2 separate regions of the Homo sapiens genome follow, and region 2 is linked to region 1. The links come from fine-mapping of genetic effects on gene expression. A gene starts in region 1. The other region holds a variant in brackets. All regions are shown on one strand. Distances are from middle to middle.

Region 1 (5,369 bases):
AACACAGACATGATCTCTTGCCCCACTGAGTTTGCCATCAATGAGCAAGGCAAGCAACACTGAATTCTGGTAAGAGTTTTGAAAGAGATGCCAGGAGGTCTCAGCATCCAGCCGGGCGTGGTGGCTCACGCCTGAAATCCCAGCACTTTGGGAGGCCAAGGTGGGTGGATCACCTGAGGTCAGGAGTTCAAGACCAGCCTGACCAACATGGAGAAACCCCGTCTCTAAAAAAAAAAAAAAAAAAAAAACAACGAAAAAACAAAATTAGCCAGGTGTGGTGGCGCATGCCTGTAATCCCAGCTACTCAGGAGGCTGAGGAGGGAGAATCGCTTGAACCCGGGAGGTGGAGGTTGCGGTGAACAGAGATCACACCATTGCACTCCAGCCTGGTCAACAAGAGTGAAACTCTGTCTTAAAAAAAAATAAATAAATAAATAAAAGAAAAAGAGGCCGGGCACGGTGGCTCATGCCTGTAATCCCAGCACTTAGGGAGGCCGAGAAGGGCAGATCAGAAGGTCGAGACCATCCTGGCCAACACGGTGAAACCCCATCTCTACTAAAAAAAATACAGAAAATTAGCCGGGTGTGGTGGTGGGCGCCTGCAGTCCCAGCTACTAGGGAGGCTGAGGCAGGAGAATGGCGTGAACCCGGGACGGGGAGCTTGCAGTGAGCCGAGATCATGTCACTGAACTCCAGGCTGGGCGACAGAGCGAGACTCTGTCTCAAAAAAAAAAAAAAAAAAAAAAAAAAAAGAAGCCGGGAGGTCACTCAGCATCTAAGAAAGCCCAGAGGTGTGGAGGGAGAACACTGTCATGGGTGCTCCATAGGTTTTTGAGTGAATCTGTGAATGAAAGCAGGAATGGGAAGGTGACTGGAAAAGAAGTTATTGTCAAAGAAAAGATCTTGAAGCCTTGAGATCTAATCATGTACTTTTTTTTTTTTTTTCTTGAGTTGGAGTCACACTTTGTTGCCCAGGCTGGAGTGCAGTGGCACGATCTCGGCTCACTGCAACCTCCACCTCCTGGGTTCAAGTGATTCTCCTGCCTCAGCCTCCTAAGTAGCTGAGATTACAGACACCTGCCACCACGACCTGGCTAATTTTTGTATTTTGAGTAGAGATGGGGTTTCACCATGTTGGCCAGGCTGGTCTCCAACTCCTGACCTCAGGTGATCCACCTGCCTCAGCGTCCCAAAATGCTGGGATTACAGGTGTGAGCCACCGTGCCTGGCCCTTAATCATGTACTTGTAATAGTCTAGAAATATTATGGTTATTGGAAAAGTGAAGTTAACTCTCAGCAAATAAACTGGGAGTTAAAATTGGAATTCCTCCACAGGTCTCATTTTAGTAAGGCACTCAGAAACAAGTAATTTCAAAGCAGCATAGTACTGGGCTCAAGCGATCTTCCCGCCTCGGCCTCTCAAAGTGTTGGGATTACAGGCGTGAGCCACCACACCTGGCTTGAGTGTCTTTAGATTCCTCACGTAAAAGGCAGAGAGCTAGGAGTTAAGTGCAGGTGGAGAGGGTGCAGGCACCCGGCTCTTTTCGTTTGTTTTGTTTTTGAGACAGGGTCTCACTGTTGCCTAAGCTGTAGTGGCAAAATCATGGCTTACTGCAGCCTCAACATCCTGGGCTCAAGTGATTCTCCCACCTCAGCCTCCCAAGTAGCTGGGACTACAGGTGCACACCACCATACCCAGTTAATTTTTGTATTTTTTGTAGAGACAGTGTTTCATCATGTTGCTCAGGCTGGTCTCCAACTCCTGGACTCAAGCGATCTGCCCAGCTCAGCCTCCAAAGTGCTGAGATTATAGGCGTGAGTCACCGTGCCCAGCTGAGACACCTGGCTCTTACAGCTCCAGATGAACCCTTTCCTGTGTGATCACCCCACTGGCACTCCAGACTGAACAACATAGCAAGACCCTGTCAAAAAAAAAAAAAAGGGGGGGGGCCACTTGAGTGTTTCTATTTCTATTTATTTATTTAATTCTTTTATTTTTTGGAGACGGAGTCTCGCTCTGTCGCCCAGGCTGGAGTGCAGTGGCGCGATCTTGGCTCACTGCAACCTCCGCCTTCCGGGTTCAAGAAATTCTCCTGTCTCAGCCTCACAAGTAGCTGAGACTACAGGTACAGGCCGCCATGCCCGACTAATTTTTTGTATTTTAGTAGAGACAGGGTTTCACGTGTTGCCCAGGCTGGTCTCAAACTCCTAAGCTCAGGAAATCTGCCTGCCTCGACCTCCCGAAGTGCTGGGATTACAGGCGTAGGCCACCGCAGCCGGCTCACTGGGGGCGCAGTAAATGCCGATTTCCCTTGGGTATCTTCATTTCTCCTTAGAGCCGAGCTCGGTGCGCCGCGGGCAGGAGTGGGTGGGGCGACAGTAATAAGAGTAACAGCAAGCGTACACACGGCCTTCCAAGTGTGCCAGACACCGCTCTAACACTGAATCCGCACAACCCGAAAGGCAGGCCTTTTTTTTTTTTTTTTTTTTTGCTTTTTGTTTTTTAGAGACGGGAGGGTCTCCCTGTGTTGCCCAGGCTGGTCTCGATCTGTCGGCCTCAAGCGATCCTCCGGTCTGGGGCCCCCACAGTGCTGGGATTACAAGCGTGAGCCACCGCGCCCGGCCAAGGAAGTCTTAATGTACCTCTTTTCAGACAGGAAAACTAAAGTGTAGCGCGGCTAAGTAACGTAGGAAGCATCAATCATGTTTCTGGTCAAAGAAGCGAACCAAGTCAATTCTCAGGCAGAAGCAGCGGAGATTCTCCGCAGCCGGCAGCGCCCAGGGCGCCCGGAACCCAGAGAGCGAGACCGCGTGAAGGAAGTCCCGCCCCGCCCCGTCCTGCCCTGGCCTCCAGGTTTCCGCTTCCGCTCTTCCCTGGTCCAGTCCACCCTGGCGGGGTCGCAGGGTTGGGATGGCGGCTGGAGGCGATCATGGTTCGCCCGACAGCTACCGCTCACCTCTTGCCTCCCGCTATGCCAGCCCGGAGATGTGCTTCGTGTTTAGCGACAGGTATAAATTCCGGACATGGCGGCAGCTGTGGCTGTGGCTGGCGGAGGCCGAGCAGGTAACGGATCCCGGGCTGAGGGGCTGGGCCGGGAGGGACGGGCCCGCCCCAGCACGTGCCGGGCTCTGTTCCGGGCTGGGCTTAGCCACCCCGGAGCTGCGGCCCGGCTATTTTCAGCTGGGTGTTCCCTGTCCTGAGGAGCTGCGGCCCCAGGAAAGCAAGGGCAGGAGATCCGGGAGCCGCCACCTGTTGCCTCACGTGTTCTCAGTCCGAGAGGGTTCGAGACGCGGAGGAGGCTGGGAGAAATTCAGCCTGTAGTTTCAGGGAATTCATTTTGGCCATCCCCGCAGGAGTACGCTGCTAACCACAGACACCGAGCGCTTGTTTCGTACTGTTGTGCTCATTATTTCACTAATCTTTTCTTGTGTAATCCATGAAGATCTTGCAGGCTTGATGGTGTTTTTCCCACATTGCAGGGGAGAACAAAGCCCGGACAGCTTGTTGTTTGCCCTAGCCCATCCAGCTATTAAGAACGGAACTGGGATTTGAACCTGGGTGCACTCCAGAGCCTGAGCTGAGCACGTAGCCCCTTGGTTTTCCACAGTGCCTGTGTAGTTAGTGACAGGACTGGAATGCTTGTTTTCTAGGCCACCGTTTCTGCCTCACTGGCCTCCGCTTTGCCTCTTAGGAGAAGACTCCGGGTAGGGGTTTATTAAACGGGGTTTATAATTTCTTTTCTAAGGGCTGCATAGAGAACTTCTTAGCCCAGCGGTTTCAGAAATAGCTCCAGAAGAGTTGAAGCAAACTGAAGGTGATCCAGAGAGCGATAATGTTTCTCCTCAAGTTTCAGAGGAAAGTGCCACAACGAGCAAGTTGGCAATGCCCTCTCAAACGGCACAGTAAACATGGAAACAATTTGACTTCGGGCCTAGGACCTGTACCATGGAACTCTCCAAACAGGAAACTTTCATTCTAGATTCCCTCCCTCCCCTTATCACTGCCCTCCAAAATATTGGGCGATACACTACAATAATAGCAGACATTCAGATAGTGCCTTCTGAGACCCAGGTCTTAACCCTTTACACATGGTTGCTTATTAATCCTCCAAACAACCCTGAAGAGTAGGTATGAAATACTATGACTGTACCTGTTTTACAGATGGAAGAATGAAGCATCAACTTAATAAACTCTTGGCGTAGATAGCGATAGTAGTAGACCTTAATCATGTGTTGTGGTTTGTGATGTACTAGTGTGTACTCTTTCTATTTCATCTGATATTCTATTCTGTAGATGAGGGTAGTGGTACTCAAGACTTTGCCAGGGTCGCCAAAGCTAGTAAATGGCTTCAAGCTGGAATTGGAATGTAGAGTCTGAGTATGTGTTCTTTGTGTTGGCCTAAAATGCATACAATTTTGGCTTTGGATTATCTGTTAGGGTGTCAAAATTACCATAAATTGCATAATAACTTAGTAGCTAAGAAAAAACTTGGAGAATAAGAGATTAGGAGGAATGCAGAAAATTTGTAGTAAGGAAAGTATGAATTTTGAAAAGATAAATTGCTTGAGGGGAGGAAGCAGTATGGCCGTGCTGCCCTCTGCTGCTTTGCTTTGGAAGGAGCCCAGAGGTGTCATGTCTTCTGTGACTGTAAAGGTTCCAGGCAGTTCTGCCACATGTGGCTGCCGAGTACTTGAAATGCAGCTAGTGTGACTGAGAAACTGACTTTTTACTTTTATTTATATATTTAGGTTTTGAGACTGGGTCTGGCTCTGTCGCCTAGGCTGGAGTGCAGTGGCACAATCTTGGCTCGTTACAACCTCTGCATCCTGGGCTCAAGCTGTCCTCTCACCTCAGCCTCCCAAGCTGGAACTAGAGGTGCACGCCACCACGCCCGGCAAATTTTTGTGTTGTTTTGTAGAGATGGGTCTCACTGTGTTTTCCAGTGCGGTCTAGAACTTCTGGACTCAAGCGATCCACCGACCTTGGCCTCCCAAAGATGTGAGCCACCATACCTGGCCTGACTTTTTACTTATAAATATTTTCCAATACTTTTTAATTAATCAATTTAAATTTAAATAGCCATATCTGGCTAGTAGCTCCTTTCTTGGATAAAAAAGATCTAAGATGCAAGATCCTTCCCGGAGTCACTGTTTGCAAGTTTCAAGTGAGGTTTAAATCAGTTTCACCACTGTTTGTATTCAGCCCTTGGATCTAAGTTCCGAGCTGCCTGTGGGCTGCCAGCTATTTTTTGCAGCCTAATTTTTCCAGTGATGGATGAATGTAAGACATCAATGTGTTTATTTTCTCATCAATATCTCCTGGAATTGCTTTCAGTTGCACTCATTTGCTGTATATAATTTCCTGGCAA
Region 2 (5,377 bases), 22 kb before region 1:
CGTGAGTATTCTGGCAGCTGCTGAATTAAAGATGCACCAGAACATATACGAAGAATGGCACCGTCACACGTGCATCTGCAAGTCTCGAGTGTGGAGAGTGTGGAGGTGCCGGGTCTTTTCCACCAAAGCTTGGATTGTCCTGTATATATCAGAGGCCAGTCGTCAGAATTCCAAACGTAAATAATTTGTGAAGTAGTGAGTAAATTCTAAGTAACATAAAGCTAGGGCCGGGCACAGTGGCCCATGCCTGTAATCCCAGCACTTTGGGAGGCCAAGGCGGGCAGATCACAAGGTCAGGAGATGGAGACCATCTTGGCCAACATGGTAAAACCCTGTCTCTACTAAAACACAAAAAATCAGCCAGGCGTGGGGGCGCATGCCTGTAGTCCCAGCTACTGGGAAGGTTGAGGCAGGGGAATCGCTTGAACCTGGGAAGCAGAGGTTGCAGTGAGCTGAGATCATGCCACTGCCCTCCAGCCTGGTGACAGAGCAAGATTCCATCTCAAAAAAGAAAAAAAACACACAGCTAATAGAATTGCCATTGTTTTTCATAATAGAATCTAGCTGCTTACTCCAGCCTCTTTGCAGATGATGAAATATTGTGGTCTTGGGGGGTAGCAGGGTCTTTGCTTAAATTAGGTGGCGCTAGATCAGACTTTGCCCATCCCCTTCCCTGCCACTGTCAAACTGGTGGACGGAGAAGACCTGACTGCCCTTGGCTGCAGATGCCATGACAGAAAGCCAGACACACTGCAAGCCAGGGATGAGGGGGCTCAGGCAGCGAGGAGCCCCTGAGAAAGAGCAGCACTTCCGGGGACTGAAGCCAGGTTGCTTCGATGCTTTGGGTATGGTCTCTTGCCTCATAACTCACATGGGGAAAGAAAGAGACCATATTTTTCTTTCCTTTTTATCTAAGGCTTTATTTATTTTGTTTTAGAGCAGTTTTAGGATCACAGCCAAATCGAGAGGAAGATACAAAGATTTCTGTCATATCTCCTGCTGCCACACATGAATAGCCTCCACTATTATCAACATCCTCCACCAGAGTGGTGCATTTGTCAAGATTGCTGAACCCCTCCTTATCACCAAAAGTCTGTAGTTTACATTAGAGTTCACTCGGCCTTGTACAGTATATGGTTTTGGACAAATGTATAATGACGGGTATCTACCATTACAGTATCAGAGTCCTCTGCCAGTTCAGTCATCCCTCTTAGCCCCCCACAGACACACACGTTTTTCTTGATAGCTAAGTTGTCTAGAATATATAAATTCCATACACCAAGAAATATCAGAATATAGTATTCTCTAGTAGTCCTTGGTTATCCTGAGTTTTGGTGATGCCTTGTTGGTTTACATCATTACTTCTTAATTACCTGGCGGTCTGGTTGAAATACAAGTTCTGGACCCAGAGGTCTTGGGTGGAGCTTGGACTTTGCATTCTAAAAAGCGTTCATGGATATGGCAGCTTCTAGTCAAAGGACTGCACATTGAATGTCAAGGACTGCAGTCGCTCCCTCCGTATGCTTTAGGATTTTCCTGAGATCCATAGCTCTCTTTCCCTCCCTTCTTCCAGGTGTGTGTTGGGAAACACTACCATCCTTGCTGAGTTTGCCACTGATGATGAAGTCAGCCGCTTTCTGGCACAAGCTCAGCCCCCTACACCTGCAGCAACCCCAAGTGCGCCAGCTGCGGGGTGGCAGTCGCTGGAGACCGGCCAGAACCAGTCAGATCCCGTGGGACCTGCTCTGAATCTTTTTGGTGGGTCCACTGGGCTCGGGCAGTGGAGCAGCAGCGCTGGTGGCAGCAGCGGGGCCGATCTTGCTGGCGCTTCATTGTGGGGGCCCCCAAACTATTCTTCTAGCTTATGGGGAGTCCCAACGGTGGAAGATCCCCATAGGATGGGCAGCCCTGCTCCTTTACTACCTGGTGACCTTCTGGGAGGAGGGTCGGATTCAATCTGAACTTAGAACTTTCAACTCTGACCTCGTGACCTTTTTTGGAACAGCAGCAGCACTAACTTGACCTTTTCGTTTTTTTTTTCAACTTGCAATAAATACATTTTTAAAAGGAAAAAAGAAAACGGAGAGAAAAAAAGGTGGGTCATTGACAGACTGTCTGAGCACATAGTTGCCTCCCTTATAACTTCAGTTTTTTCGTTTGGAATATGAATCCAAAAAGAGAACATATCACTCTTGAAATACTTGAATCATGAACGCCAACCTAGAAAGACAATGTGAAGCAAGTACACATACCATTTAAATTTAAACACAAAAAAATTAAAAAAATTAGTTTCTAGTTTTTCACTTTTTTCATGTTATATGGAAGTTGTTGCTAAGAAACATATATACTGAAAAAAAATAGCTTTTTAACTTTGTTTGCACTGGGTGTGTTTCCGTCCTTAGGTCTACCATGTTTGGGAGGGAGGGAAATTCAAAAGAATTGTTGGGGGAG[G/C]GGGGAGGGAAGACTTGACGGAGCCTCACTTTAAAAACAAAAACACAAAAAACCTAAAAAAAAAAAAAAGGAAAAAATTTGTGATTGGCTGGTTGATAAATACCAGTGTGTTCTGGCACATGTAACTGCCCAGGCATGCTCGTTCTGGTGTGTGTGTGCACGTGTGTTCATGTGCATTCGCGTGCATCCTTCTCTGTCTCTGTGTGTGTGCCTGTGTTCTTCCCTTCTCCCCTGCCCCACCCTGACTTCTCAGAAAGCTGCATCGCTGACAGTCTGCAGGCTGGCTGGCCGGCCCATCTGCTTTTTATTTTATTTTTTTAACTATGAGAACACACAGGCCCGGAGAGCCACTGCTACTAAAGCAACTCCATTGGGCTGCATTAAGATGAACAGAGTGCTTTTTAATGATGAAAGCAGGGAGCTCCTTTCCATTTGCAACTTAGCCTGAATGTGGGGTTTCTCTGGCTGTTCTTTTGACCTAGCAGTAGAGTGGAGCACTGCCAAGTCCAAAAAACTAGAGCAGGAGGTACCTCTTGGAGCAACGGTGTGTTTATTTCTGTTTTTTTTTTTTTTTAAGTGAATGGCCACCAGGCACATCTGAGTATCTGTTAAGTTTCATGCAGGCCTTTTCGTTAGTTTGAAATGGGAACGGAAGATAACTTTTGATGATGCGATGTCTCAAAAACAGAGAAACTTTGTTCCCTCTTTCCTTATGATCAGGTTTGAGAAATTCTTCAAAAAATTAGGTGAAGTTGAGTTACATATTTCTGTTGGTTGGTTCTCTTTTTCATTTTATGAAAACAGAAAAGAATAAGTGGTGAGCAGCCTCCTGAAAGCATCTGCAGCTACTCCCTCTGCTCCTTTCTCGCCGAGCGTTACCTGTGCCAGGCCGTGGCGCGTTACAGCACCAGGCCATCACTGACAGAAACGTTTACTTAACGAATGTTCTTAAACCAGTGTGTACTTCAAGCGTTTCCTTTTGTTTCTCTGTGTTGTGTATTTCCTGTGTATGTGGTTTTGCTTAGGCAGGTATAACTTAGCGAAGACTTTTAAGTATTGCACCTTTTTTTGATTTTTGACCTCTTCCCCCCACCTTGTAATTTTGCTTTTTTAATTTCGGTATTTAAATACTTTTTTTTTTTTTTAAGCATCAATGTAGTAGTACTCTGGGCCGAACAGGGGTCAACGTTTAATCTACAGTTATCACCAACATGTATGTACTTATGTCGGAATCAAAATGTATCAAACTGCTTATTGTGAAGAGAATTATAGCAGACCTGAAGGGGGCGAAAAACCAGATAGGGTGGGGGGATGGATGCCGGTGACGTGCTAGCACTTGTGTGGACATCCCAGTCTGCATTATGCTGTTTAACATAAAGTGCCGACATTTTGTACCAGCAAATACCTGCCCATTCCAACCCTTGGTGGGAGCAGACCTCTACTGTCCTCTGTAACTTGCTGCTATTGAGGACAAGGGAGTTTTTCTTTCTTTAGCGTCTTCAGTGAAGGATACAATACAACAATGCCTAATGTATTTGACTTTTTAGCTTGTGTCTGTGTGTAGGTGGGTGGGTGGGTGTGTATAGGAAAAGCCTAAAACAAGTTATTTGCATTTCAGTGGTTTTGTGAGACAAAGAATGGGAAATTCTGTAGCCCTTCTGGCTTACCCTGTTGATTATAAACCTAGCCTCAAAAGAGATTGACAGGCATGACTCAAGTGAGTGTTCACATATACAAGCCTGCATGAGCCCTCTGTGGGTAGGTGGTCACACTTGGCATCTGCAGCATTGACGTGGCCCCGCTGGGTGCCTTGAGCATGCCCTCTTCCTGCTCTGCAATTTGAATCACCACCGTGCCCCTTCCACCACTGTTCCCCATGCAAAAGCTCTGCTTCCAGCAGCCCCCACTGACCGCTCTCTGTGTGGAGCAAAGTGCTGTCGTGCGGTGACCACCAGGTGAAGAGCAGCTTGTATTCAGACATCTAGAGAAGGTTAAATCTTAGTGTCCCTGGGCCAGGAGCATATCCCAAGGCTCCTGCGAGCCAGTGGCGACCCTGTCCACTGCCGCTCTTGGTTCACTGCTGTGTCCTGCCCCACCCTCCTCTCCTCCTGCCTGTTGGTTCCTTGACCTGCACTATGGGTTAGTTGAGTTCCTTACGATACTACGGTGAAAGCCGGGTGCTAGAGCCCCTCTTGTTTACAAGACATAATGAGGGATTTGAAATATGTAAAAATAAACATGAGAAGCTAAAATGTTCTTCCATCATAAGCTTAAAGGGAAAAAAACTAAAAACTTTAAAAAAAAAAGACCAAAAAGTGCGTATATATATACATATAAATATATATTTTAGATGAAGACTAACTCTGGGAGCATTTAACAGTGTTTTTTGTTTCTGTTTTTAACATTTGTTTTCCTGCTTTAAAATTTGCAAGCATTCTCAGGAATTCTAGGGTAGGAAGCCAGTTTTTTGAAGATGGTTTATTTAACCATATCTTATCCTAGAGAGATGGCTGTTTCTTTCCTGTTAATAAACTTTTACAAGTTCCTGAAACTTCAGAAAGTTTAAACAATTTTTACTTAAAAAAATGTAAAAAGAAAAGTCTCCAAACATTATTGTCATACTGGGGATCACACATTTTAAAACACATAGAAATATTTTTTAAAAATTATCAATTTAGCAGCAACAGGTAAATTCATTATCTTAAAAATATGGGAGAAGGATTAAGCTTTGTAAGAGCTCGATCATGGATTCTTTTGAAATTGTGTGTAGTTTAATGGGAGAGTGTTTGGTGTATATAGATGAGAATGCCATCACTTTGTTCCTTTCCATTTGAGACTGAACTGAAATCTCCCCTAGTAATTTTTATTTTTTTAAAGGAACCCTTCTCCTTGTCCCCACAACCCCAGCAACAAAAGAAAGGAAGGA

The links. PIP is the estimated chance that this variant, and not a neighbour inherited with it, causes the effect.
Region 2: its variant is fine-mapped to the expression of ADSL in whole blood (TOPMed, PIP above 0.99).

Annotation. Positions count from the first base shown.
Region 1 is chr22:40,343,648-40,349,016 of GRCh38, forward strand. ADSL (adenylosuccinate lyase) reads left to right here and starts at 2,853. Exons shown (of 13, transcript NM_000026.4): 1 at 2,853-3,064. The coding sequence starts at 2,912. RefSeq lists silencers at 553-725, 3,106-3,195 and enhancers at 2,368-2,881, 2,882-3,395, 3,396-3,908.
Region 2 is chr22:40,321,281-40,326,657 of GRCh38, forward strand. TNRC6B (trinucleotide repeat containing adaptor 6B) reads left to right here. Exons shown (of 23, transcript NM_001162501.2): 23 at 1,574-5,377. The coding sequence ends at 1,961. Among named protein-coding and RNA genes, the nearest start is that of ADSL, 23 kb to the right of the region's middle. The variant G/C (reference allele first, on the strand shown) is at 2,452.